Linked DNA regions of Homo sapiens: region 1 is linked to region 2. A link means that fine-mapping ties the variant in region 2 to the expression of a gene that starts in the linked region. Tissue or cell type: whole blood. Region 2 holds a variant in brackets; the other region holds the start of a gene. All regions are shown on one strand. Distances are between the middles of the regions.

Region 1 (2,518 bases), 57 kb before region 2:
TGGGGGTGATATGATTTTACTTGGGTGGTGTCAGAAGATATGTCAAGCTATATAACAATTGGGAAGAAGTAATATAGTAACTGGAAGAAAGTAAGAAAAGGCAAAGGTGAGAAGTCAGGTAATTAGAAAATATAAAATTTCCAATTATTATTATTTTGGGGGTTTTATTTGAGATATTCCAGAATTTCCAGGATTGAAATAATTTAAAGCCAGAGAGCTGGGAGCCTTCCACATATTGTGTATCTTAAAGAGTAATATTGGGGATTTACAGACTTTACTCAGTGAATTTACTGACGGTGGTCTGAACATACATGATTAAAAAACTTAGAAAAGGCATGACAATAGTTCTGTCTTCCGAATTTCTGGATACATCAACCTTCAACTGCTATGGGTTACTAATCTTTAATTTTAAAGAGTATTATGTACTTAAGTAAAGATAAATTCTGACAAATTGGGATAGTTTGCATCAGTAAGAAAGTTTATTGAAATTCATTAGTAAATGAGAACAGAAAGTTGTTTTTCTTTCCATTAAAGAACACTTTCTGGTAAAGTGAAAAGAAGAAATACAGAAACCACAAAACACCTTGTAGACACCTTATTTTCAAGGTCTATTTCCATAGACCATCAAGACAGAAGTGTTTTCTTGGAGACTTTGTTTTCCATGCATCTGTAAATAATGGTCTGTGTGAAGGGAGACTCTTTCCTCTTGATGCAGTTTAATAGTAGTGTTTCTTGGTTTCTGATTCAACCATAGATGAAAGAACTCTACCGTCGGGCGCCACCTCTTCAATAATTGTCTTGATTACTCTGGTTTTGTTAGTATCTGTGTGAATGATGGAAAAAAAATTTTAAACAGTCTGTAGGGATCCTTAGTAATTAACAAGCAAATATTGTAAAAAGAAGGAAATTTCAACTTTACATTGTTAAGCCCAAAAAAATGCTTAAGGTATGACATTTTGATCATGCCATTTTTCACGGCTGGTGTTAAGAGTAGTTTGTGAACAAATGCAAACGGAACCGTCTCTAAGATTTTTAATTTTTTAAAACAACTCTAGAGCTTAAAGCGCAAAAAAACCATCACAGGAAGTTAAAACTAATTCTGATTACCCCAGCTAGTTTCTGCTGACCTTGGTCCCTTAGATGAAGACTCGCCCACGGACCCGGAAGAGGAGGACTTGTGGCCTCCGCTGGAGCTGCCGCCGCCGTATCCGCCGCCGGAGCTGCTGCCGCCGCCGGAGCTGCCGCCCCCGTAGCCGCCGCCGCCGCCGCCGGAACTGCCACCACCGTAGCCGCCGCTGGAACTGCCGCCGTGGCCGCCGCTGGAGCTTCCGCCCCCGTAGCCGCCGCCGGAGCTTCCGCCGCCGGAGCTTCCGCCTCCGTAGCCGCCGCCGGAACTGCCGCCGTGGCCGCCGCCGTGGCCGCCGCCGGAGCTTCCGCCGCCGGAGCTTCCGCCGCCGTAGCCGCCGCCGAAACTTCCGCCGCCGCGTCCGCCGCCTCCGGAACTAAACGGGGTGAGGTCACATTCGGTTATCTCTAACGTTGGAAAACGGTGGGTAGCTTTCCAGTTGCCGTTAATTTAGAAAATAAGCAAAACGTGTTGAAAAAATAAAACCCTGCCAGGTATATATTTTAAAACCCATCCTTTGAAAACAATGTTAAGTTCACAGAACTCTTAAGAATCATTTTGGGCCAAATTCATGAGAAAGTGAGATTGCGGTTGCGTACTCCTTTTTCTGTACTCTACCCTCTCTCCTCCCTTCCTCTCATTCTCTGGCATCTTCTTGGGGTTTAGATAAGCCTTGCTATCTGGAATATTGAATAAAAGAAACTGGGATAACTTTTCATTTTAAAATTTACCTTCCCTCTCCTTCTAGCAGGCTGCGGTAGGTTTGAATTTCATTCTCCAGTCGGATCTTAATATCCAGGAGTTGTTGGTATTCAGTATTCTGGCACTCGGTTTCAGCTCGAATCTGTTGCAACTGTTCTTCCAGAGCGGATATCTGGGCCTGAATCTGTGAGAGCTGCACACAGTAGCGACCTTCTGTTTCTGCCAAGGAGGCTTCCAGGGATTGTTTCTGAAACGGATTTTTTTGTGGCTTAGTGACTTCCTTGTTCAGTTGAGTATGGTGACGCTTATTTGATTATTTAGTAAGGCATTATATAGAAGAATAAGAAAATGAACAGAATTTGTTGTATGTTTAATGGCACCATTTCAGTTTCAGCACTTTTAGATCAACACTAGTAGTACTTTTCCTCCATTAACATGAGCTTCACTTTGTTTTCTCTTTCTTACCTCCAACTCTGCATTTTTTTGTTGCATTGCATATTCTTAGGTGAGCATGAAACTTTGTATGATAAAGTTGAAGTCATTTCATGAGAGTTAACATACCAAGGCCAGTTGGGACTGTAGTTCTATCTCCAGAGCTTGTACATTACGTCTCAATTCAGTAATCTCAGATTTATAGCTGGATATCTGTTCAATGTTATTATCAATTTCTGTAGTCAGTTCCTTGCTCTA
Region 2 (2,766 bases):
TGCAACTTCTGTATCAAGTTTTAAGTCCAATCTATTTACTGGAATACAATGATTTAGCACACATTGATTTTTCCCATAAACATTCATATGCAATGATTGCTCACTAAAATGCAAAAAGGGTGAGGATACAATATGTGTTTTTATTGTTTTTGGATTTGGCTTCTTTCACTTAGCATGTTTTCGAAGTTCATCTCTGTTATAGCATGTATCAGTACTTCATTCCTTTTTATTGACGAATAAGATTCTATTGTGTGGATATATTACATTTTGTTTATCCATTCATCGGTTGATGGACACTTGAGGTGTTTCGCTTTGGGGCTTTTATGAGTAATGCTGCTATGAACATTTGTGTATAAAAGGACACATCGTATTAACCTATTTATATGAAATGTCCAGAGTAGGCAAATCCGTAGAGACAGGAAGTAGATTAGTGGTTGTTAGGGGCTGGGAGGAAGGGAAAAGGCGGTGACTACTAATAGGTACAAGATTTCCTTTTGGGGTGATGAAGTGTTCTAAAACTAGATAGTGGTGATGGTTGCAAAACATTGTAAGCATACTGAAGACCACTGAATTGTACGTTTTGTAAGGGTGAATTTCATGGTGTGTGAATTATATCTCAATAAATCTGTTATTAAAAAAATGAGAGACATTTCATTAAAAATATATGTTCACCATATAAAGAAAGAGAGGACCTGATAGTATATGCAGCTTATTATCAAAAGGAGACACATTTTGCCTTGAGAAGGGTTTCAGTAATGTTGTTTTTAATCTATTTCCATTTTAAGTATAGTGTACTTCACTCTTATTCTGCTCAGCATTTGTGATTGAATTTGACTCTCAAATTATTCAAAAAGCTGTGTTGAGTTTTAAAAGGCAGTGGAAGCAATGGGAAAAAGCAGATATAGCTCAAAGGTTGTAGAGTTGTACTGATGCTGAAAAATCAATAAGATTAACCCAGAAATTGGCTCAATAAGAAACCAGGGACTCCCAAAGGGGGTTTTACAATTCAGAAACAGGAAAAAATTAGAAAGTGGTTTATTTGCAATTTACATGGATTCCTCTACTTTGTGAGGTTTAGTATAATTGAAATGTATTGCAATTTTCAGGAACATTACCTACAAATTGATATTAGGTGGTCTACAGCTTGTAATTGATGTGCTTCATGATAAAGATGGCAGTAATGATGTTTTAAATATTCTAGTGCTCA[C/T]TGGATTTCATTTTTGCAGGCAATTTGCAGCTCCTCTGAGTAAAACATTTATATTCAATTACAGAGTCTGATAAATAGGATTCCCGCCACCCCACCCCTTCTAATCACTGCAGAGTATTAATAGTGCTTTCTTATGGCTGATTTCTTGCAGGGAGCAAAGATAAGATTATAGCCAAATTTCTTTCAAAACCTCAGCAGCATCTCCTTCTGGTAGCTATTTAGATATTTTCTTCCACCTCTTTGACTTCAGATGACACGACCTTGCCATCCACTACTTCTTGCACGACTGTCTTAATCTTCCTGGTTTTCTTTATATCTGAATTCATATTAAACATTAAATGTTAATTCAGGCACATGACTCTGCTGATTTATAATATTCAACTTTAAATTATTATTCTTTTTACTTATTTCCTTCTTTTAGAAAAATATGTTAAACCCATCCTCTTTCTCAAAAAATCTTAAGTCCATTTTATAAATAGATGCAGAAAATGTGCTTCTCCCCAAATTTACAAATGTCCTACTCTTAAAAATTCAAGAAATAAATTATCTTGAATTTAAGTGGAATTCAAATTTTGTCTTGTTTTTCCTTTTCAGGATGTCAGGATGTTTCAAGATAGCAATAGCACAGGCCAAGAAAATCACCCCATTCTGAGGAGTGTGCCCAAGTTCCCATGTGGAGGGTTTCTTTATGCCATGTACAAGATTTTTAGAATCCCTGGTGTCATATCTGCTCCCTTGAGAATTGGCCTTTGCTATGGTTTGAATGTGTTCCCTGGAGTTCATGTGTGGAAAACTTAATCCCCAATGTAACAGTGTTGGGAGGTGCGGCCTAGTAAAAGGTGATTAGATGATGAGGGCTCTTCTCTCATGGATGGATTAATGTGGTTACCATGATAATGGGTTAGTTATTGTGAGAGTGGGCTAGTTCTAAAAGAAAGATTAGCCTCCTCTTGCTCTCTGGTTCTCATGGACACTCTTTTGCACTTCTACTTTCTGCCATGGGATGACACAGCAAGAAGGCCCTTACAAGATGCCGGCACCTTGATATTGGACTTTCTGGCCTCCAGAACTGTGAGCCAAGTAAACGTCTATTGTTTGTAAATTATCCAGTCTCAGGTATTCTGTCACAGCAGCAGAAAACAGACTAAAACAGCCTCACTTTACTTTTTATCAGTGGCATGTAGTTAATAGAAAGCAGCTGAATGTCATAGAAAATGTGCAAAAATTTAGAACTTACCTCTCTCTTCCAGGGTGCTTAACTGATATTCTGTAGTTCTGTTTTTTTTTTTAATGAAAAGAAGAAAAAAGAAACAGAAAAAAGCATTATTGCTGTTTTGAAAATGGAATGCACTCCTGTCTTTTATATTTCAAAGTCCAAGTGAATGTGTTATTGCTTTCATATATCTTTCCCTTTTACATTGCTTTTATTGCAAACTTGAGCATTTTACTTTTTAACTTGAAAAATACATAGATTTAAAACTGACCAGTTTAATATATGCTAAGAAGTTCCTCTAATTAAAATAACAAAATTACAATGGAAGTTTAAATCTTGTGTTCTC

What was found. PIP is the estimated chance that this variant, and not a neighbour inherited with it, causes the effect.
Region 1: KRT10-AS1 starts here. The variant in region 2 is fine-mapped to the expression of KRT10-AS1 in whole blood (INTERVAL, PIP above 0.99). The same link has a PIP of 0.9 or more in NK cells.

The regions. Positions count from the first base shown.
Region 1 is chr17:40,817,660-40,820,177 of GRCh38, forward strand. KRT10-AS1 (KRT10 antisense RNA 1) reads left to right here and starts at 1,486. Exons shown (of 3, transcript NR_160888.1): 1 at 1,486-1,549. KRT10 (keratin 10) reads right to left here. Exons shown (of 8, transcript NM_000421.5): 5 at 2,390-2,515; 6 at 1,858-2,075; 7 at 1,128-1,502; 8 at 458-823. The coding sequence ends at 817. RefSeq lists an enhancer at 1,996-2,518.
Region 2 is chr17:40,874,936-40,877,701 of GRCh38, forward strand. It overlaps KRT20 (keratin 20), which reads right to left. Exons shown (of 8, transcript NM_019010.3): 7 at 2,445-2,482; 8 at 954-1,523. The coding sequence ends at 1,426. The region is part of intron 1 of LOC105371777 (a long non-coding RNA gene); the gene reads left to right. Among named protein-coding and RNA genes, the nearest start is that of KRT20, 8.9 kb to the right of the region's middle. The variant C/T (reference allele first, on the strand shown) is at 1,208.